Regions from separate parts of the Homo sapiens genome. Here regions 1 and 2 are each linked to region 3. The links come from fine-mapping of genetic effects on gene expression. A gene starts in region 3. Each other region holds a variant in brackets. All regions are shown on one strand. Distances are between the middles of the regions.

Evidence for each region. PIP is the estimated chance that this variant, and not a neighbour inherited with it, causes the effect.
Region 1: its variant is fine-mapped to the expression of TNS3 in monocytes after LPS (Quach 2016, PIP 0.95). The same link has a PIP of 0.9 or more in monocytes after Pam3CSK4.
Region 2: its variant is fine-mapped to the expression of TNS3 in skin (TwinsUK, PIP 0.91).

Annotation. Positions count from the first base shown.
Region 1 is chr7:47,478,847-47,486,853 of GRCh38, forward strand. It overlaps TNS3 (tensin 3), which reads right to left. Exons shown (of 31, transcript NM_022748.12): 4 at 2,257-2,295. Among named protein-coding and RNA genes, the nearest start is that of SNORD151, 18 kb to the left of the region's middle. RefSeq lists enhancers at 1,207-1,890, 1,891-2,572, 2,345-2,434, 3,145-3,692. The variant T/C (reference allele first, on the strand shown) is at 3,419.
Region 2 is chr7:47,396,890-47,404,896 of GRCh38, forward strand. It overlaps TNS3 (tensin 3), which reads right to left. Exons shown (of 31, transcript NM_022748.12): 14 at 3,896-4,025; 15 at 3,504-3,569; 16 at 1-15. Among named protein-coding and RNA genes, the nearest start is that of SNORD151, 64 kb to the right of the region's middle. RefSeq lists enhancers at 3,585-4,494, 6,241-6,749. The variant T/C (reference allele first, on the strand shown) is at 3,739.
Region 3 is chr7:47,578,277-47,586,283 of GRCh38, forward strand. It overlaps TNS3 (tensin 3), which reads right to left and starts at 3,835. Exons shown (of 31, transcript NM_022748.12): 1 at 3,775-3,835. RefSeq lists enhancers at 3,171-3,708, 3,709-4,246.

The DNA of each region.
Region 1 (8,007 bases), 99 kb before region 3:
TGCATAACATGCATGTCTATCCATATACATGTAACAACTACATGCATAACATACATGTATGTATTTGTACGCACAACAATTACACACATAATACACACACACACACACAGAGCAGCAGCAAGGGGAGTGGGCAGGAGCCAGGCTGGGCTAGAAGAGCGAGATCTCTTAGCAACCACACCTGTGAAAAGGTTAACAGGGAGGCCGTGTCCTGACGCAGGGGGAGGGCTGTGCTCCAGGAGACTGAAGACTCCTCTCTGGGACCCTGGGCTCCAGAGGGAACAATGACAACATCTAAGCAGCCAGGATGGGCCCTTTGGGCTCTGGCCTGTCTGACAGCCCTGCAACCGGCATCTTTAGAGCCAGCACACAGCTTTAGCCCTCTGGTGCCTCTGATGTCCAGGGCTCACCAACAAATCTGATGGCAAGGGACTGTCTGCGAGGTGGGAGAGCCTCAGCTGCCACCAGGAAAACAGGCTTCAGCCAGGGCCTCGGGACAGGCACACAGCTCTGGGGCCACCTGGGCCTCAGCCCCTGGCTCCCGGGGCCTATGACAAGCCTGAGGAAATCAGTCACAAACCGCAGCCTGTCAAAACCAACTACAAACACAGGCTCCCAAGTCCCCCCACGCCCCCTACTCCCCCACCCCCCCGTCGGCGGTGAGTGCCACAGGAGGAATGGAGTGAGACTGGACCACAGGCCTGGGGACACAGCTGAGGCCAGCAGGGACAGCCAGGCAGGCGCCCGCCCCGGACGGCCTCAGCTCTTGATGCTGCAACATGTTTCTCATAGTTTGTCAATATTTTAGGTTTCTGGGTGAGATTTTATTTTTAACGTTCCTATGACCTCAAATGCATACTTTGCTCTTCCAGAACCAAAGAGACCACACCACATGCCAGCATTAAAAGGAGCATAATAAGGGCACCCCGCCTGTGGCCAGGCTTCTGTGACAGGCCTGACCCTGTAGTCCCTCTTCTCTCATCCGCAGCTAGGTTAGAGAGCACCTCTATGGCCATTGCATAAAGGAGAAAACCGAGGCTCAGGTGGGCAGGGGGCGAGGGCAGGGCCTGGCCACTCAAGTGATGAGGTTAGAGAGCCACCCCCACGCCCACTGGGTAAAGGAGGAAACCAAGGCTCAGATGGGCAGGGGGCAAGGGCAAGGCCCAGCCACTGGAGCCAGGATCTGATCTTGACTTCATCAAAGCAGGGAAGCTGCCACACGGGCGCCGCTGGCCGAGCCTGGGGAAGGATGTCCTACTGCACCACAAGACAGAGCCAGTTAGCCAGTTCCATGTCTGGAGGCCACCAGGCTCACAATCCAGAAAGGCTGCCAAATCTCCGGCAGAACACCCCAGATTCTGTGTATGGCGAAGCTAGGGGGAGCCAAGAGCAGAAAGCCCTGCCCTACTTGAGAAGTACAGGGAACAACACACCTGACAGATGCCCAGGAGGAACCACAGGGTGCACCTGTTTCCCTGCCCCACCGGGGAGGCCCAGACCTGCACACACTTCCCCAGCAGCAAGAGGCAGCTTCCCATTTGCCTCCCAGGGAGTCGCTTCTGACTTGCAGTGAGAGAAGAGGGTCCTGTATCCTACTGTCTTGGCACAGTGAGCCTTTCAATTATCCTGCAAGCTGCTAATAAGCCCTCAGAAACAAAGCTTCACTCACTCAGCTCCAAAGGATGGAGGCAAAGAAAACACCAGGAGGTACCATGACCTTCCAAGGAGCTGCATTTGAAAAGCAGACAGCAATTTAAATTTGCCTAATCACAAGCCAAAGAGAAAGTGCTATTGTGTTTACCTTCAATCTGATTTGAACACACACACACACACCCAGTATTTGTCAGAGCTGGATGTCAGTCTACAAACCACTGCACTACACTGTCCACAGCCACCTGGCGACCCAGGCACCCTCACTGTCCAGGTTTTTATCACTAAGACAACAGACTTGTGCTGTCTTCACTTTATAGCCAAGGAAACTCGGCCCAGGGAGATTCGCCCCGAAGGTAACTATTACTGATAGAAAGGCAGCTCCCGCAAAGGCGCAGCGGATCCTCTTCTCTAAAAAACCATGCAAATGGCCAGTGCAGCATGGTCAAAGGACCTCAGATAGAGCCTTGTGAATGCAAGCTACAGGTCAAAGGGAGGGCATGGATCCTAGAGGAAGCCAAAAGATCCCCAAAGAGGGAGCAGCTTCAAGAAAGGACTTAGTCCTTTCTTGGATGGAACAAGGGAGCCAAAGAAATGCAAAGGGCTTACCTGTTCCAGTCGGACTTGCACACCGCAGGGAATCACCACCTTTCAAAGAGAGAAGAAACAGATAAGCAAATGGATTCTCCAGGAAAAAATTAGCATAATAATCAAGCCAGGCTCCCAAAGACTGAATGAAACTGTCTCTAACCTCACTCTGGCTACAAAGCTGTAGCAGATCAAGACTGACAAGATTTAGAGTTAAGAGAGTCCAGGGTTTTGTTCACTTTTGGAAAGTCCCTGTCATTTTTGCTAATGTCATGGAAACCATGGGGCCTCCCCTTCCAGAAAAATGCAAATCACTCATAGATACAAAATTTAGCCCCCACTTTCACAAAGAACTGGTAGACCTCAAGGATGGAAACCTCTGAGTCGGTCCGTGCTTGGGGAGCTTGGGAGCGGGGCCCAGAGAAGGAGGTGGAAGGCTCTGCCTGGTGGTCTTCAAGACCCCACTCCTCCCATCCTCACCCAGGGGCATGCATTCTCTACACAAGGGGCCATCTTTTCTAGAACTATTTCTACAAGTAGAACTGAAGAGTCTGAATGTGGCAATGTCAACCTGGTTATTCCATTCCGCACAAGAGACGGGGAGAGGAGACTTTGACTCCACCATAGTCTCTGAAGACCGAGAGCTCCCTGGGAAAGATAAAGAAAGTAACGGAGGCAAGGTGGCTCAAACACAGTCAGGAGAGGCAGTTAGTAACAGGCACAGGGAGCCACCAGTCCTGCAGGGCAAAGACCCCACCTTGGGCAGGATCTCCACCACTTACTAGCCACAGGACCTTGGCCTTTAATCTCTCTGGGCCTCAGTTTCCACATCTGAAAACTGCAGGTAACAATAGTGCCTTCCGGGCAGGGTCATGGTGAGAATTAAGAGATGGCGCGTGAGGAGCTCAGAAGAGTGGCACAGGGCAGGGGCTAAGGGAGCCAGGCAGGCATTGCGCTGCTCTGGGGGGCCGCTCAGGAGCCAGGCGCCAGCAAACAGGATTCAGTTCCTGGTGAGTGACCTCACTCCTTAGCTTTCTCCTGGCACTGCCCCCTCCAGATCCCTGGCACCTGCCTTCTCAAAGAGTTTTCTGAAAATGTGCAACCGAAGGAGAATCGTAGAGAATCTCAGAGATCTGACTAATTGTACTTGTGGTTTGGAGTGGGCGGCGGCGTAATCTTGGCT[T/C]TTACCAGGATAACTATTTATAGCCTCTTGCTTATCTTACGCAGTCCAGTCCTCAGGGAGTATGTGACACATGGCCGTTCCTGTGTCTGGGACACATCATTACTCCACCATGGCTCTGACTCAGACGGATGTCTGGGGCAGGGGTCCTCTCTCAGGGCCCCTTTAAAGTTTGATGAATGGATGAGAGAATAAGTAAACAAATAAATGTAAAGCAAAACAAAACAAAAACAGCTTTGGAAACAGAAGGAGTCACAGACAAAACCTTACAGGATGGCGGAAACAGCCGGACAAGGAGACCCCATGGTTAACAGAGCGGTGTGACTTATCTCCCCTCAAGCATGGTATCTACTCAGTGCACACATGCATCTTGTTGCCTCACTCCACATGTGACATGCAGGCAAGAAATGTGCGAAGAATCAGGGCCCCTGCCTTTCAAACTCACTATCAGCATTCCTGCAATGGCATGTCAAGCATGATGAAAAAAAAAATGAGCTATGAAGGCAGGAAAACACAAAGAGGAAACTTAAATGCATATTACTAAGTGAAAGAAGCCACTCTGAAAAGGCCACATACTGTATGATTTCAACTCTGTGACATTCTGGAAAAGGCAAAACTATGGGACAGTGAAAAGGTCAGTGAAAGCCAGGGATTAGGAGGGAGAGAGGAACAGGCAGAGCACAGAGACTCTTTAGGGCCATGAAGCTATTCTGCTTGACACTATAAGGATGGACGCACGTCATTCTGCATTTGTCTAAACCCACAGAATGTACAACACCAGGAGAGAATCCTAATGTAAACCGAGGGCTCTGGTTACTAAGACTGTATCAATATTGGCTAATCAAGTGTAACAAATGTACCACAGGAATGGAAAATGTTTATATATGAAGAGGAAGAAGAGTGTGTCCAATTTTTTTTTTTTTTTTGAGACGGAGTCTCACTCTGTCACCCAGGCTAGAGTGCAGTGGCACGATCTTGGCTCACTGCAAGCTCCGCCTCCCGGGTTCACGCCATTCTCCTGCCTCAGCCTCTCGAGTAGCTGGGACTACAGGCGCCCGCCACCACGCCTGGCTAATTTTTTGTATTTTTAGTAGAGATGGGGTTTCACTGTGTGAGCCAGGATAGTCTCGATCTCCTGACCTCATGATCCACCCACCTCGGCCTCCCAAAGTACTGGGATTACAGGCGTGAGCCACCATACCTGGCCTGAGTGTCTGATTTTTGTATAAATCTAAAACTCTCTTAAAAATACAGTCTATAATACATTTTTTAAATTCACTCTCTGGAAGCACACGTTTGTTGAGACAATGAAAAGAAAAGCCTTGTGCAATGTCAGAAACTTGAGTTTTAAAGACGGCAGCCACTTAAGGATTTGGTCCAGAAGCCAGGTCTGTGTGTTCCCACATCCCTCTGTGGCCAGATGGGGTGCAATAACGGCCCACCACCTGGCCTGGCCCCAGGGTGTCCTACAGAAAAGGAGAGGTGAGCTCTGTAAGCCGGGACTGCCCGAGTCCCATCTCACCCCAGACCATCCACGGCTTATATGGCTAACCGGCTCGCGCGATAAGTTGGCACGCCCAATCTTGTCGAACTCCATCCATCACTTGTGCTGCACATTTTCACTGACAGCCTTCTCCTGCCAGGACTTCACTTGGAAATGAAGCAGACTGGTCCCTAACCCCACAGAGCTTACGGCTCACGTAATAGAAACTGCATAAAATGAATCGTTTTTAAGAAAGTGAGCTGGGGAACAGTAGGGGGCGAGCAGCCCCCAGGTTCTGCAGAGCAAATGGCAGGCAGCCTTGCCCTGAGCCTCCACATTCGCATCCTACTGAACTTGCTCCTCTCTTCCAAGAGAACCAGTCACAGGCCCTACTGTCTGTTTGCACATGTGCTGTTACAAAATGCAGACAAAAATGTCTCAGGAAAGACCTTTTGTGGGAGTGGATTTGCAAATAAAAATGCACATGGAGCACCAACCAGAGAAAAAGGGACATTCTAGAAGCAAAGAGTCACCTGTTGATAAAGAGAAAACTCATCATTTCTATAAGTACAAACATCTCATTTAGCAAAAACCATGACCAAGTGAACACAGAGGGCACTTGTTCTTTCAATGTGGCTAAAACCAGATTCCAGGACAGGAAGTCCCTGAAAAGAGACTGTATTTCCGTCACACTTTTCCTCCCTTATACTAAGGCAGGTAAGCTGACCACAGACAGAACCACAGGATGAGGCGGCCGGGCTGGGGATGCTCATACCGGCCTGCTCAGCACCAAGGAACCTATGGGGACTGTGCGACGGTGCTATCAGCTGCATTTGCTGGACAGTCAAGTGTCACTTGCTGTTCTTCAGCCTTAGCAGAGGCAGAAGCACAGTGCTTCCGTGCACAGAGCTGCATCCCTGCTGGAGCGCACACAGCTCTCCACTGATCTACAGGCTGCCCTGCCTCCCATGCATCAGGAGGGTATCTCCTGTGGATGGAGCCAGGTAAGGGAGTAAGGCACACCTGCTTGCTCTCCTCACCTCAAACTCCAGCTCTGATCACACATTCCCCAGCACTGTGGGGTTCTTTCACTGTTTTCACTGGACAGAGGGAAGCACCGTGGGTCGGGGCCAACTCCAGGTGGGCTTGGCCTTCCTCGGCACAAAGAAGCTAACACTTCTTTAGCACTTATGTTCTTAACATGCCAGTCTGACTTATTCAGAGAGAGCAGCCACCCAACGCTGCAGGGCTGGGAGGGTCCCGGTGCACTGCATCCCCTGAGACCGTCCTGCAGACGCCAACCAGAAGCCTCTGAGCTGCGCCTGGCCCCATCAGTGCACAGCCAGCATGGCTGGGATGTGTGCGGTGGCATGGCCAGGAGTCTAGATGGGCACCCGCTGGCCTTGTGCTTTGCCTGCTCTGTAACATGATGCTGAGTGAGCTGCAGGGGCGTGAAAGGATGAGACAAGAACCAGGCAGCGTTCCCTGTGTCAAGGCACACTCCTGGGGAGGCCCACGGCTCATCCAATGTGTGGACTCGAATCAGCTGGATAAACACGAAACAGTGCCCTGTCTGTAGGTCTTTCTCTGTAGCCCTCACAATAAGGCCAGCGAGCCCCCACTCTGTGTATGAGAAGCTGCGTCTCAGAGAGGGCCAGCGCCAGCCACGGGAACTCTCCCAGAGATGACTCCAGCTGGTGCCCCAGCTCCAGGCTCCTCTCCTGATAGGAGCTGCACCCTCTCTCATAATGAGCAGCTCCCTCAGGGATTAGGGTGACAAGAGGTGACAACAGTGAGACAAGGAAGGGGGCAGAGCAGCTCCCGTTAGCAGCTACAGAAGGCTGGAGAGAAGGCAGTGGGTCATGGGCTGTGGGCCAAAAGCCATGGGCTGTGGCATCCCCGGGATCCGTCCCTCCCATGGTGGAGGCGAGGGCCCCTCTGAGAAGCCTGTTTGGGAGCCTCTTTATTGCCTTCTTTCAGCTATCCTGGGATCCTAATCTACTGTTCCCAAGGAAACCACAAACAAACACTGCTGTGCCTGCCCCACACCTGGCTACGTGGGTGCCTGGGTACACTGGCATCAATAACCTTGTCCCCAAGCCAGCAGGTCCACAGGACAGAGGGGCAGAGGGACAAGTGCTTGCCACCAAGTCATGACTGTGTCCTTGGGAATGTGAGTGTGTGGGTGAGCGTATGTGTGTGTGGATGAGTGTGAGTGTGGGTGTGTGAATGTGGGTGAGTGTGGGTGTGTGAGTGTGGGTGTGTGGAGGTGAGTGTGTGTGGGGGTGAGTGCAGGTGTGTGAGTGTGGGTGTGTGGGTGAGTGTGTGTGTGTGAGTGACTACATGTGGTGGTGTCTGTGTTTGACTAGGTATATTTTACTGTGGATATCTGCAAATATATTCTTTTGTGTGAATGTGTGTAAGTTTGAGAGTGTTGTGAGTTTGCATATGAGTGGGTGAGTCAGTAGTTATGTGCATGGGAGTGTAAAAGTGTAGGGGGTGTGAGCGTGTGTGCTTGTGAGAATGTATGAACGTGCATGTGTGAAACTGAGTTTTGTAAGTGTGTCTGTGTGTGTTTCTATGTATGCCTATGCCTCATGTGTGTGTATTGATGTGAGAGCGTGTCTGTGTGTGTCTCCGTGTGTGAGTGTATACCTGTATGTGTCTCTGTGTGTTTGTGTGTGTGCACACACAACAAAGCTTAGCCCTGCAGTTCCATCCCCCAAGGTGAATGAAAGCACTTCAGCTAACAAGTACATTCTGCCTTAGAAAGTGCTTTCATCCAAGGTGCACTGGCCCGGCCACCATTACCCCCAGTGCTAACAGACACAGGGCCTCGGGTGCAGATCTTCCTCAGTAAGGAGTGAGATCAACTCTTCAAACCTGAACCAATCCCTCTCTGCTTACTTCTGGGAGATCCAAGTCCTGGGAGAAATAAAGGACAACTCAGTTCTCCTCGTGCTTGACCGACATTGTTTTCCTTTTGATGAACACAATAAAACTCCAAACTCAGCTTTTATTGTTGTTTCTTATTAAATTTCACTTTGTAAACAGCCATATAGAAAGTGACATTTTTCCATCAGTTTCTCTAAAGCCGTGTGGGTATAGC
Region 2 (8,007 bases), 180 kb before region 3:
ACAAGTGTTCGGACCCTGCACAGAGCACAGGCAGCAACATTAGTCCCAGTGAAACCCATCACCTCCATCCAACCGACTCCACCATAAGGACAGGTGAGCAGCCTGACTTGAGCAGGAGAGAGAAGCCTCTCCATCCTCCACCCTCCTGCCAGGAGCCACAACACTAATCAGAGACTGTGGAGGATTTTCCACAACTAGAACCATAGTTAAAGCCACGAGGGGGAAGGGATAAGTAAGCACTGATCTTTCGTCCACTGTGAACCAGGCTTGGACACTTCTGCAAAACGAGTCTTCAGACCACCTCACTGATGAGGACACAGAGGCCCGGTAAGCTGTCTCTGAGCCTCAGAGTCCACAGATTTGAATCCAGGCTCCAGGCTCTCAGATCCACACTCCTCCCTTCAAGTCTTTTTAGGAATACCAAGGGGATTTTTAACACACAAGCCATGTATTTAAAGGTTTTTGCCTAAATCTATGACAATGAACATAGAAAAAGCATGATTATTTCCACAGCTATTAAAAAGGGAAACAAAACTCCCATGCATGTGGATCTTGGTGATGGATCTGGACAATTCACCTTGATGATAAAGGGACTGGTTTCTTTTGAAATATATTTTTTAGGGAAAAAAATTGTTTCGCACATAATACTTGCAGCCTACTATACTTCTAATTCTCTTTTTAAAATGCTGGTTACTTTGGGGTTAATGATGAAATCATGATGGAAATTTAAAAATTCCTTGAAATGAATGATAATAGTGACACAAGTTATCAAAACCTCTGGGATACAGCAAAGCAAGTGTTAAGAGGAAAGTTTATAGCACTAAATGCCTACATCAAAAAGTCTGAAAGATCACATATTGACAACCTCATGTCACACCTCAAGGAACTAGAGAAGCAAGAATAAACTAAACACAAAGCTAGTAGAAGAAAATGAAAAACAAAAATCAGTGCAGAACTAAATGAAATTGAAACAAAATACAAAAGATCAATGAAACAAAAAGCTGGTATTTTGAAAAGATAAACAAAACTGATAGACCATTAGCTAGATTAACCAAGAAGAGAGAAGATTCAAATAAATTCAATTAGAAATGAAACGAAACATTACAACCAGCACGAAAGATCATTCAAGACTATTATGAACACCTTTATGTATATAAACTACAAAACTGAGAGGAAATTGGTCAATTCCTGGACACAGACAACCCTCCTCGATTAAATCAGGAAGAAATAGAAACCCTGAACAGACTAGTAAAAAGCAGTGAAAATGAATCAATAATTTTTTTAATGCCAATAAAAAAGAGCCCAGGGCCAGATGGATTCACAGCTGAATTCTACCATCCATTCAAAGAAGAACTGGTGCCAATCCTACTGAACAATTCCAAAAGACTGAGAAAGAGGAATTGTCCCTAACTAACTCATTCTATGAAGCCAGTATCACCCTGATACCAAAACTAGGAAAGAATATAACAAACAAACAAACAAAAAAGAAAATCACAGACAAATATCCCTGATGAACATAGATGCAAAAATCTTCAACAAAATACTAGCTAACTGAATCTAACAGCACATTAAACAGATAATACACCATGATCAAGTGGATTTCATCCCAGGAAGCAGGGGTGATTTAACATATAGAAGTCAATAAATGTGATACACCATACAAACAGAATTAAAAACAAAAACCATATGTCATTTCAGTAGATGTGAAAAAGGCATTCGATAAAATCTAGCATCCCTTTATGATAAAAACACTCAACAAACTAGGCATAGAAGGGACTTACCTCAAAATAATAAAAGCCATGTATGACAAACCCATAGCCAATGTCATACTGAATGGGGAAAGGTTGAAAGCATTCCCCCTGAGAAGTGTAACAAGACAAGGATGCCTACCTTCACCACTTCTATTCAACATAGTACTGGAATAGTACTGCCAGAGCAATCAGCTAAGAGAAAGAAATAAAGGGCACCTAAATCGGAAAAGAGGAATTAAAACTGTTGCTATTTGCCAATGATATGATCATATACCTAGAAAACAATAAAAACTCCTCCAAAAGACTTCTAGATTTGATAAACGAATTCAGTAAAGTATCAGGTTTCAAAATCAATGTACACATATCTGTAGCACTGCTGTACACCAACAATGACCAAACTGACAATCAAATTAAGAACTCAATTCTTTTTACGACAGCTGAAAAAAAAAAAAAAAAAAAACTAGAAATATACTTAATCAAAACGTGAAAGATCCATACGAGGAGAACTACAAAACACTGATGAAAGAAATCAGAAATGACACAAACAAGTGGAAACACATCCCATGCTCATGGATTGGAAGAATCAATATACTGAAAACAACCATACTGTCCAAAGCAATCTACAGATTCAATGCAATTCCTATCAAAATACTAATATCATTCTTCACGAAATTGGAAAAAAAAAATCCTAAAATTCATATGGAACCAAAAAGGGGCCCAAATGGCCAAAGCAATCCTAAAAACAAAACAAAACAAAAATCTGGAGGCATCGCACTATTGGACTTCAAACTATACTAAAAGGCTATAGTTACCAAAACATCATGGTATAAAAGTAGACACACAGATCAATGGAACAGAATAGAGAATCCAGAAATACAACTGACTACAACTGATTGATCTTCAACAAAGCATATAAAAACATAAACTGGGGAAAGAATACCCTATTTAACAAATGGTGCTGGGAAAACTGGCTAGCCACATGTAGAAGAATAAGACTGGATCCCCATTTCTCACCTTATATTATAAAAATCAACTCAAGATGGATCCAAGATTTAAATCTAAGACCTGAAACCATAAAAAGTCTAGAAGACAACCTAGGAAAAACTCTTCTGGACATTTGCCTAGGCAAATAATCCATGACTAAGACCCCAAAAGCAAATGCAACAGAACAAAAATAAGTAAATGGGACCGAATTAAACTAAAAATCTTCTGTACCACAAAAGAAATAATCATCAGAGTAAACAGAACCCACAGAGTGAGACAGAATATTTGCAAACTATGCATCTGACAAAGAGCTAATATCCAAAATCTTCAAGGAACTCGAACAAATCCTCAAAAAAAAAAAACAAATAATCCCATCAAAAAGTGGGCAAATGATATGAACAGACATTTTTCAAAAGATATACAAATGGCCAACAAACACATGAAAAAATGCTAAACATCACTAACCCCCAGAGAAATGCAAATTAAAACCACAATGCAATACCACCTTACTCCTACAAGAATGGCCAGTCATGCCCAAGGCTCTCCTGGCTGAGTGGTTGTGAGCAAGTCACGCCACTTCTGGGGCTTACTGACACAAGTGGGCCTTCTTGTTCCACTATCCAATATCCTACATTTAAATAAAATTAATCACAGAAATCTCCAAATATGCACAAAGGCAGGAGACTAGTACTACAGCCCCAGCGTAGCCATCATGCACCTTTCACCAGTGTCAGCAAGGACCACCCAGTATTCCACCAAGCTACCCACCTTGAATCTTCTCAGGCGTGGCAGAGAAGACTAATTCAACCTTCCCATAGTCAGGAAAACGGTCATCTGAAAAAAACAATGTATTTTAACACATTTGTGGAGACAATTAACCGGAAAAGTATGGACTGACTTTGTCCTTTATTCCAACCAGTACAGCACCACTCCCAAATCTGCAATAAAGACACCCCATGATACAGAAAGTATAGGCAGTTTCATTGGTTATCCATAATTTTTT[T/C]CCCCCAGGGATCAATGATCATTTTCTCCTACTTTGGGAACAATTTTGTCAGTAGGCTGAATTTTGGAAAGAGGGTAAAGGGGATAGTGAAAGAATCAACCAAGGAGGTTCAACCGCAGCTGCCCACAAGCACAGGGCCGCCAGCTCCGCGCCTCACCTTTGCTGGCATTGTCCAGATCCTCCTTCCCAAACACCAGCCCGTAGCCCTGCACAGCCCCAGTGTGAAACTGCAGGCGGAAAATGACGTCACGGGTGGCCGAGCGGTATTTCTTGTGGTAGCATTTCACCTGGGTTAGAGAGACAAAACAAAACAAAGTAGCTGCAGCGGGGGACACACGTTCCCGGCAAGGAACACACTCCGCGGAGGCCGGCACAGCAGGGCCTCCCCTCTGGACTCTGGCTGGGAGTTCACGCTTTGGAGTGGAACTTCAGCCCTGGGGCACAGGCGCCTGCAGACAGCTGGGGTGCAGGCAGAGGCACCACACTGCTGCTGCTGGGTGCGGGGCTCCACTGGAGGCTTCAATGTGTTCCCTGTGCTGCTCCTGTGGAACCGCAGCTCTGAACACCACTATCGCTAGTCCTCAGAGAGGCCACACCTAAACCCTTTCAGACCACGTGAATGTGCCCTGTTTTGGAACACATCCGAAAAATAGAATTCCATGGTCTCTTTTTTCTAGACTTTAACAACTGATTGTGATAGCTTTTCTTTGATCTCAATGCTCCATGTTGCAACTTAAAGCTTTTTGTTTTCCAAAAAGCAGCAGCCGGTCATTACTGTGTGTACTATCCTAAATGATTATGTGCATGCTGTAATTTAGAGACAGAGATACAAAGAAGGAGGAAGGGAGAGAGGGAGACAGAGAGGGTGTTGGCATTTAGACAAGTGTTCAGAATCACCCTGATGTGATCTGAACTCAAGCTGGGGTTCATGAGGTCCCCAGGGTGCAGCTCAAGCACCCTAAATGATTGTGCCAATGAGCCAAAGGGTAGAGCAAGCCCCTCCTTGCAGATGCTTGGCATGTGGGGAACGGTGGGCAGAGCAGGAGCCTGAGTGTCCTGACCTGCCTGTATAACTAGGTCCCCCCTGCTTCTTGTGACCGTGCGCAGCACTGGCATCATTGGAAGGGTTCTCAGGCCACAGCTGGGGGAGCTGCAGGGACAGGGATACCCCTCACTCAGAGATCAGGGGCAGGACCACCAGGTAGTGGCACTTTCCCAAATCCCCAGAAGGCCGAAGGCCCTGGACAGGCTGGATTCTGCTCTCAGACCAAATCGTGCACAGGCAGGTACCTCCCCAACCCCGAGGCTGTGGGGTAGTGACTACCAGAGACAGCCACGTTCCCATAAAAGAGACTTTTCTTGGAGAAAGATGGCTTTAAAATATCACATGCCTCACAACAGTAAATGAGAAGCCACCGCAGCAGGTATGATCCGGACCAGCATGCGGGAGAATTCTGCAGGGAGGGTCTTCCCTAACCAGATGAACATCCACCAGAGGAACAAAAAGCCCAGAAACCCAGCCCAGGAGGCAGGGAGCTGTGACTCCAGGCAGACCCAGAAGATGTTTACCTTTGTGCTATCTACAAGGAAAGGGACGGGTAAATAAACCAAAAAAATATAATTAAGACTGTGGAAGGATGTTCCCTGTTGACAAACATGACTGGGTCTCCCTTGTACGGCCTGGCGCTGGCCAGCGGTGCTGTAAACATGGGGCTCAGACTCAGGCCTGGCCTCCAGGGGCCCAGGAACCAGGGCGTTTGCAAGTAGAAAACTGGCATTGTGAAGAAATGTTGCCTCAATTTGCTTTCCAACAGCCAATGGCACGTTGGCCACAAATCTACCACCTCTGTCCGAGACTGACTTCTCAGCAAGACTCAATCAAAGGCTGCCCTTGCAGGGATCCTTCCAGGATGTTCTGAGAGTATCTGGGCCCCTCCTTTGAGCTCCCCATGCCCCACACTCACTACACTGACCACCCATCAAATGCTTCAACCTGGGGCATATTGTAGAGATCCCCAGAGGGAGGTCCTTCTGGCCAAGGGTAAATCCACACATGCACCCCCATTGATAGAGATGATAGCACCCACCTTTCCCTGTCTGCCTTCAAATGTGCCTGTCTGCCTCCACTAGTGCCTTGCAAATGGGGAGTGAAAAGTGGTTAGGGAAGGGAAAAGGAAAAGAGATGCCCCAATTCAAGCCAGTCTTGCTCTCAAATTTTATAAATATTTAAGGGAACCAGAGATTTAAAAAAATAAAAACAACAACACGATGTCAGCTGATAGCTCACGCAGCCTGTGCTGCCATGGGCGCCAACATTTGCCCACAGGAGTCAGGAAACTCCTCAGGAGGCAGCTGTGGGCTCAGTCCTGGCAGGCAGGGAGTGTCCTGGGTGAAAACAGAGGGAGCTGTGGGCTCCAGTACGGGCCACATAAGGGGCACAGTGGAATATCCCCAACCGCAGCTCACCGTGCCCCTCCCGTCAGTACCGCCCCGCCCAGCGCAGGGCCTCCTTCCAGGCCAGGTCCTGCCCTCCCTCTTCAGGAATCCAGGATGCTCCCCCAGGTCCCCCCACTGCTCCTCATAGCAGCTACACACAAACACACTGCTCCTCCCGCAGCAATCCCAGCTCCCTCCACATACCAGAAGGGAGGAGAAGGCAGGCCACGGTGCCCAGGAGGTACAGAGTGGCAGGAGATGGGAATCGGCCTGTCCCAAACAGGTTCCTCTCCAGGCCCCATATGATTCTCCTGTAAGATTCCTATTTTTCACAGCACAAGCTTTCAAATACTCCTAAGGCTCCACAGTGAAAGAAAGAGCGGTCTATCCCACTGGCAGAGAACAACTGCTGCCTGAAATCACGTGGCCCTCCCTTCAGGGGTTTCTCTGTGTATTTTAATGCTAACTTTGTTTGCTGGCTTGAGATCCTAACGGCCTCATCATACACAATCCCTGTTTCATATTAAACCTCTTTCCTCTTGATTAATGGAGGTAAACACCACCCTCCCCAGTCCTCCTGACCAAATCATGAACTGACTCCAGCTTCTTCTGAAAGACACGGAAAACCACAGGATTTTCCCTAACTCGGGGCTCCCAGCAACCACCATCAACACAGCAGGTCAGATCTTGAGACAAAATCCACTCACCAACCAGGAGCCCTCCATAGTGTGCAATAATTATGCATTATCTACATCAACAAATCTTTTTAGGAGCAATGGCAAGAGATCAGAATTATGCTTGTAATACTTAACAGAAAGAACAATCAACATGGTACTTGGTACGAGGGCCCCCAAATGCCTCCCTTTAAGATATAATAGTAATGCAAACATTTCGTAAAGATTAGACTGATTCAAGTCTATAATTTTCCCTTCATCCCTCCGGCTTTAACTTTATTTACCTGGGTCTCCCCAGAGTGTTTCTAGAATATGTTGATCCTTTGCCTTCAGATTTTAGAATATCTGCATTTAAAATAACAACTCAAAGATGTGCAGTCACAATTTTGTAGCATAGAAAAATGAAATAAGAAATAGCAAGCACCACAACAAAGGCTGCGCACAGCCTGTCACCATGCTATCATAGAGCCAACCACAAAAGTACGTGGGTGTGATGTTGACATCACAAATCGCTGGGAGCACTCAGATCTTGAGAAAGTTGCAGCCTCTTTAGACTTTAAATTCTCTGACTGCAAAATGAGTATTATGATATTGACCTGGCTATGTTGTTATAAAGATTAAATTAGCACTACATATTAATATAATTCATTATCCAATAATGATATGCTATATTTATATGAATATATTATTTAAAGGGCATAAGCTTCTAGAGAGAGGGCACTTGGTACTCAAAAACATATAGGGTGAATGATGATCTCAATGGGAAGGCCTGTAAGCACTCTTGCTTTCTTTTAGTCTGATGAGGCAATTCAGAAACCATCGCCAAAATTTATTTTCTAATAGTGGTATAAAAATATGCCTGTGCCCGGCCGGGCGCGGTGGCTCACGCCTGTAATCCCAGCACTTTGGGAGGCCGAGGCAGGCGGATCACAAGGTCAGGAGATCGACACCATCCTGGCTAACATGGTGAAACCCCGTCTTTACTAAAAAAATACAAAAAGCCGGTCATGGGGGCAGGCGCCTGTAGTCCCAGCTACTCGGGAGGCTGAGGCAGGAGAATGGCATGAACCCAGGAGGTGGAGCTTGCGGTGAGCCAAGATTGCACCACTGTACTCCAGCCTGGGTGACAGAGAGACACTCAGTCTCAAAAAATAAAAAT
Region 3 (8,007 bases):
TCCAGCCTGGACTCCAGCAAGACTCCATCTCAAAAAAATAAAAATAAAAAAATAAAAAGAAGCATGTGAGAATCCTCCCCTTCCCTGACACAGTGAGGCATTCCGAGGGACCCTAAATTGTGTGCAGTGCTTCATCCCCAAGTTGATGGCCCCCATCCTCAGTCACCCTCATTTTCACTGGCCTCCTCCCTCCTGTTTCGCAGAGGCAACTCCCAGCGAGGGTAGGAGGCAACAGGTGAGGGATACCAGGTAGAGCTGCGCCAGGTGCATGGGGCAGGGGGTTGGGGGGGGGCGGTGGTTAGAGGTGTGTCTAGAGGGCCACGGTGCTCCTGGAGTACACTGAGCAGGACAGGAGATGCCGCCATGCAGACAATGGAGACACCCGAGGGACCCTGAGCTCAGCACTACATCCCACATTGCAGTGATGGATGTGTACCAAACACATTCCTGAGTCACAGAGTACAAACAGAAAGCTCACGAAACTTGGAGAGTCTAGTTTTCTGCTTTTACGAGAAACGGATAGACATCAAGGAAACCACTGTTCCTGCCCGAGCTGCACTCGAAAAGCCCCACGGCAGGACACGGGCCTGCATCCGGATTCAACATACTCTAAGATTCAAAACGCCCTCAATCTAGGAGAATTTAGTCCTGCTCAGCAGCATTTTGGTGGCAGCGATTTTTCTTGTCTCAGCGTTTTAGGAGCAGTGAGGCAGCGTGGAAACGACACAACTGTGAGCCATGATCCCTGTGAAGATGAAGCCACGCAACACGCCCTTCACTGTGGGGGCAGAAAGAAAGAACTGTGTTCCATGTTGTGATGGTTTTTAATACTCTTGCTGTGAGGAAGAGAGTAACTAAGTTAATCAACCACCTACTTAATTAACCAACTAACCAGCATCCCTCATTCTAGATCAACAAGGATAGCAGCAGAGGATTCTAGGTAGACAGGACTGGCTCTAGGTCATTCCAGGCACAGCTTGCAGGGGTTAGCTGATTCCCCAGTGATTTCTGGGGTCCTACAGGAAGGACCCGGGGTCCCAGGGTCAGCTGACCTCCTGGAGAGCTTCAGACGCCCAGACCCACCCTTCCCATGATAGCTCCTGCTGCATGGGGCAAACCCACCAGATCAACCCGCAAGACAGGAGGCCCCTCCCTGGGAAATCTATGGGGGCCGCTGTGAGGAAGCCTCGAAGCCTCAATTCTAAGCGTGCTGCTGAGGCACTCAGCAAATGTCTCTGGCTTCCTAGTAAGTGGCAGGGATCTAAACAATGCTTTCTGCCCTCAGGAAGGTGGAAAGTTCCTCCCCCTCTCAAGTTCATACACAGGGACACAGGGAGGGAACAAGAGGCTTCCCCTGAACAGGGGTGGTTTACAACAGGCTGATCTTAAGAAAGGAATGGGGCACATAGAGTCAGAGAACTGGGCTCATTCAGATCCCTAACTGTTCCCAGACTTTAAGAATTTACTTGGTATTTTACTCATCTGTAAAATGGGTCCTTGTGTAGAGTCCTAAGCAGATATAAGCTGCGACTGCCAAATGGTAGGTCAGCCCTTCCACTCACTGTTCTTGCCATACTGCCTCCTCCTCAGGTCTCTGCTATCCCCTTCAGCAACACCTCCTGCAGTGGAAGAGCATACTTTGACACCCCCTCTCCTGCCCTTTATTTCCAGAGTCACATTTGCAAACAGCTCACTTTCAAAACATTAGGTGCCAAAGAGACACTTTGTTAAAAAAAAAAAAATCAATTTGCATTCAGGAATAAGTAGTGCCCTGGGGCTACTAGTTTTTCTATCTTGGTAGTTTTTTAAAGACATAATTCAGCTGAGCTGCTGATAGCTATGGCAGCCTCAGCTGAGGAATCGCTGTCTGGACATGCATTAGAATTCAGTCGACAGACGCGCAGCAGCAGCCAGGAACAGGGGTCTGGGACCCTAGAGTCCTGTCCCAGAATCCCAGGCTGCACTACCACCATGTTTCATTTCATCTCGGCCAAGTTACTTAGCCTTCCTTTGCCTCAGTTTACTCGTCTGTAAAATGGGGTAATCATAATCCCAACTCCCTCCAAGGAATGTAATTTGGGTGAAATGAAATGAATGCATGCAAAGCATTTAGCACAGGCAAACACTCAATCGGTATGCCTGTTACTTTGTCTTCGGGGTCACCATTACTATTCCTAAGGTCAGGAGTCGGGCTTGCTGCCAGTTCCTCCTGTCAATTCCCTGTGTACACACCCCCCACCCCCTGTGCTACCACACCCCCACCAGGACCCAGTGCACCTCCATCTCTGTGTAATGGCCTTGCCCCTCCACCCTCCAGCTGCAGCGACTCCCCACCCCCTCCCTGGCCCTCAAGGCCTCAGCACAGAAAAGCCTTTCTTAATACTTGTTGATTGATTTGCAAATATAACCTCACAGGCCCCAAAGAGAGAAGAACCAGAATCACCAGAACAAGTAAACCTCATTCAAAAGGGAAAGCATGAAAGCAATTTAAAAAATTAATATGCACAGACCAAAGCCTCAAGAAAATCTAAAATGTCAAAGGGTTGGTTAGTTCAGAAGGGCCATGCAATATTAATACAATGAGTTCTGCATTCATACTTTTCAGTATATTTTCAGAGTCCTCCATGATCATGCATTCAAATAGTGAAAAAAATGGGGGGAAAGCCAACCCGGAAGATCAAAGTGTGTGAATGCGCCCCAAGGAAGCCTGGGGGCTTCCCAGGGGGTTGTGACCACCCTCAGTAGTGCTCTCTGCTGGCCCCACACCCTGATGGCGCTTTGAGTTTTTCAACCACGCTGGAGTTCGGGTCATCTGCTGACACTGTCTGGAGAATGCCTGAGGAACGCCTGAATCTCTTCCCGCCACAGACACTCAAATCACTCCAAGCAAAGGACCCGGGACTCACATGTCAGGCCGCTGCACAGCACCGACACAGAGACCCCTGGGCCGTCCGGGACCCTCCCTCCTCCTGCTTGTCAGCGACAGCTCCCGCGTGCCAGGAGGCACATGCCACACAGCTGGCCCCCAGCCTGGGACAGCACCCCCCACCCCAGAATATCCCCCCACCCCGAGGTCCCGTCCTTCAGGGAAAAAAAGGAAGCGCGTAAAGACCCCCTGCCTCCCACCCACCAAAGGGAAAGGGAAAGAGACGCACTGGAGAGCTTGCCTAGAAAAAGTAGGAGAAGGGTCTTGAGCCTGCCCATTGAAGCCCCTAGCTGCGCTCTCCACCTGGAGTCTCGAGACGGAGTCCTAGGGAGCAAAGTCCGCTCGGTCCCGACAGCGACTGCGACATAGCTGCTCCGGTCTCTGCCCTCAGTCCAGGGCGCCCGGGCGCCACGGGTCCCACTCGAGTGGTCCTGCGCCCCAGCCAGTCCCCAAACCCAGCCAGTCAGCGCCCCCGTCCCCGGACTCCGGCGAAGCTGGCCCGCGCCCCAGCCCCTGTCCTGGGACTCCTGCCGAGCCCCCGCCCCCCACGCGCCGCAAACCCCGTACCCGCGCGCACCAAACCCCTTGCCCGTGCGCCCCCAACCGGGTCCCCGCGCTCCCTAACCTGGGTTCTCCCGTGACCCCATCCCCGCGCCCTGAGCTCCCGTACCCCGCGCTCCCCGAACTCTGTCTCCGCGCTCCCCGAACTCAGTCCCCGCGCCCCAGCTCCAGATCTCTGTGCTCCCCAAGCCTCGTTCCTGCGCCCGGAGCGCGAAAGCCCGCGCCGGGCCCGAAACAAAGAGGACCGCGGCGCGTGGCCGCGTTTCCTCCTTCCCCGGCCCCAGTACCTGGGGGAGCCTGAGGCGCGGTCCGGCAGGGCGATGGCCGCAACGAGGCTGGGCTCCGAGTAGCGCGCGGGCGGGCCCGTCCTCCTGGCTGGCTGCCGGCGCCCGCGGCAGGGCCCCCTCGAGGCGGCGCGGGCAATCGCCACGGCCGGCCCCCGCGCCCGCGCCCCGAGCCTGGCGGGTCACCTGGCCTCATCACCCTAACAATGCAGCGCGCCTCCAGGCGCCCTTCACCGGGGTCCCCCGCCCTGCCGAGGTGCGCCCTGGGACCTCCCTTCGCTGGCCGCAGAGAGGACCTGGAATTATCAGACCCATTGAGCAGCCCAGGCTCCAAGTGGTCTGGAGGCTTGCAGGTTCCGCCGGGCCGGTGTTAGAGTACCTGGGGAGGCGGGTTCGGATCCTGGTTCCTGCACAACCAGTTCATTCTTTCATTCAGCGCCTGTGATTAAGGTGCTCTCCGGGAGCAAGACCTACCCTCCCTCCTGTAGCTCATAGCCTAGTGGGAGTCGCGCATACATAAAGGAGCACAGCCGCTCCGGAAAGCCTAGGGTGCCGTAGAAGCCCCTGAAATACCCAGCTAATGAAGGGAGGAGGTCAGGGAAGTCTTTAGAAGTCACATGACTTCTTAAAATGCGCCGGGACAAATGAGCAGAATTTAGGCAAGCCAGGGGAAACCAGAAAAACGATCCCGAGCAGAGAGATTCTCAGAGGAGGAAAGGCCTATAGGTTGTCCATCCTGACTGTCCATCCCTGAGATTCAGATGGCCCTGAACTCAGTCGCTTAGCCTCAGTTTCCCCATTTGTGAGATCGGGGGAATGGAAAAAGTTTGCAGAAATCAGAAGTGCTCTTCCTCCAGGGAGGTCACAAGAGAAATTTCATCAGCGGTTTGTCCTGTGGTCCTTTCCAGGAAAACATCCTCCCCGCCAGCCTCTCACAGAAGAGACCTAGATTTCATCTGCCACGTGGAGCAGGCGGTCTCAGAATCCCACCCGGAGCAGGGTCCAGGGCAAGTCTTGGAGGACAGTCACCAAGAACTGCTTTGGATTCGGGAACAGAGCTGCCTAACCCATCCGCAGCCCTGGGGTCCTGCCCTGTTCCTCTGGCCCCTTCAGGGCAGCGGGGGAAGCAGGGAAAACAGCCTGTCAGAGATGGCAGAGAAACCGAGCAAGAATAATTATCCTGGAAAAGACTTTCAGAAGTAACCACCAGAAACTTCGAGTCCCCAGATCCAAACAGCTGAGAATGTGGGGCCTGAGCCACGCTCTGACTCCACTCCCACCACATGAGGAGAAACAAGAGCTGCTTTTCTGGAAGACTTGAACAACCCCTGCTGTGCTCTGGAAGGTAGTGTCATTTCTCATCCCCAGACTGATCTGGGTATTTATTCCCAGGCAAAGGCTTCATGAGCACCATGCCCCAGCCCCTAGAGATGAGGCAGGCATTTTTCCTACACTCTAGGAGACACCAGGTCAAGAGTCAATGAGATGAGTCAAGGGGTGCCAGGGAAGATGCCATAGGGGAAGGTGGGGAGGAGGTCACAGCCAGCTGGGTTAGGAATGGGGGTGAGGCTGGTACTGTTACGATCTCCTTTGTCCTGATAAGGAAACAGGATCTGACATTCTAGGCAACTTGTTCAAGGTCACCCACCTGGTCAGGCGAAGAAAGTGGGAGGGATCAGGACTATCTGGCCTTGAGGCTACTCTTAACTTCTTCCCAGCTGCCTGCCCACACCATCCACTCTGTGCAATTGGACTAAATCATCACTTTGCTCAACCCTCTCTTCCATTAAGACCGTGGTGATCTTCACACCCAGAGCCAATTACGTGCTATTCTGTGCATCACAGAAACCATCATAATGCCAAAAACCATGTTGGCTGAATGACAACATGAATTTGAGCTTCTTGCAGTGTTAGGGCACCCATTTACAGGAGGTGACACTGTTGTTTGTCTGAGAGCTCACAGTCAGGAAAACTCAGTGCAGTGCTGGGGTTCTCTGACCCTTTGTCAGGGAGCCTCTTCTAAAATCTCTCCAAACTGCTACCCACACCCAAGCCAGATGGCCCCACCGGCCACACTGCCCTTGTTGGGGTAGCAATGGAATGGGATGCCCCAACCACACCTTTGTTTCTAGAAAAACTGTGACTTGGGTGCTCATTCGTGCAGTGTCTGTGGTTATATTCCCTGGCAGTGTCCCAAGAAAGGAGAAGAAAAACCGGGCTCCAGTATCCCCACGCACTCTGTGTTGGCTGGGATGGCTGTTCCCCGGGTTCCCCACACCTCGTCTAGAGGCACATGAAGGGAAGCCTCTCTGGATCCCCAATCGGGACCTGGGCCCCTTCCAGAGCTTCGCTTCCCCAGCCCAGGGCCTCCCCACTTCGCAGGCTGCAACTTCAAGTTTCCAAGAAATTAAACAAAAACAGGGCATGAACCAGTATCTGAAAAAGGGAATGTGCATTTTTTCCATCCTTAGCCATCCAAAAAAAACTCAACTTTGAAAACAAAAGTCTCCAACATTTAGCTGAAAAAAAAAAAAAGCAGCAATATGCCAAGAGTGGCCTCTCCCTCCTAGTATGCCAAGCAGAGGGCAGGGGAGTCTGGGCAAGAAACTCCCGCCAATCTCCTTCCTCCCTGAGCCCTTCTTTGCAGACTCATTCTTGCTCCTCCCCTGTAGGAGTTTTAGAAGATGTGTTGGAAGCTTGTCATTGCAATGAAGATTGTCTTTGCCACCGCAAAAATCTGAATTTGTATCCCTAGATCAAGGGAGGTATATGAGCAAGGACTTGGATATTTTTCCTTATTTCTTACTTTCTGTCACTGAAAATATTTCCCAAAGACCAACTGAAAGAGACAGCAGGAAACATTACACAGGATGGAGTTACAAAGCTCTACAGCGCATTCAGAGAACTGTGGAGTTGGAACATGAGCAAATGCCTGTGTTTTGCCTTAAGATACTGAGTCTCGGCCGGGCGCAGTGGCTCACACCTATAATCCCAGCACTTTGGGAGGCCGAGGAGGGCAGATCACAAGGTCAAGAGATCGAGACCATCCTGGCCAATATGGTGAAACCCCGTCTCTACTAAAAATACAAAAATTAGCTGGGAGTGGTGGCACGCACCTGTAGTTTCAGCTACTCAGGAGGCTGAGACAGGAGAATCGCTTGAACCCAGGAGGCGGAGGTTGCAGTGAGCTGAGATCGCACCACTGCACTGCAGTCTGGGTGACAGAGCAAGACTCTGTCTCAAAAAAAAAAAAAAAAAGATACTAAGTCCCTTGAGACTCTTACTAGAACACCTGGCCCTTTCCTCTCTTCCTTTTTCTCTTCCCAAACACACGAATCCTCACCTACAGCTCAACAAAGTGGGCTTTACAGTTGCCAGGCCTGGCTAGAGGCACCTGAGCTTTTCCGTGTCTCAGAACCTTTTCGGAATTTACATAACCTTGGTGTTTGTGATGGCTCATGTCAGATGTCAACTTGATTGGGCTAAGGGTTGCCCAGATAGCTGGTAAAATGTGATTTCTGGGTGTGTGGGTAGCGTGTTTCTGGAAGAGCTTAGCGTTTGAATGGGTAGACTGAGTAAAGCAAATCCATCCTCACCAGTGTGGGTGGGCACCATCCAGTCCTTCAAGGGCCCAAGTAGAACAAAAAGGCAGAAAAAGGGTGAGTTCTTCCTCTTCCTTCTTGAGCTGGAACATTCATTTTCTCTTGCCCTCAAATATCAGTGCTCCTGGTTTTCAGGCCTTTGGACTCAGACTGGCAATTACACCACCAACTTTCCTGGGTCTTCAGTTTGCAGACATAGTTGTGTGAGCCATAATTGTGTGAGCCAATTCCTATAATAAATTTCTTCTAGGCCAGGTGCAGTGGCTCACGCCTGTAATCCCAGCAATTTGGGAGGCCGAGGCGGGCAGATCACGAGGTCAGGAGATCGAGACCATCCTGGCTAACACGGTAAAACCCTGTCTCTACTAAAAAATACAAAACAAAAAAAAAATTAGCCAGGCGTGGTGGCAGGAGCCTGTAGTCCCAGCTACTCGGGAGGCTGAGGCAAGAGAATGGCGTGAACCCGGGAGGTGGAGCTTGCAGTGAGCCGAGAATGCGCCACTGCACTCCAGCCTGGGCGACAGAGTGAGACTCTGTCTCAAAAATAAATGAATTAATTAATTAATTAAATTTCTTCTATAGATCTGCATATGCCCTATTGGATCTGTTTCTCTGGAGAACCCTAATACAGCAC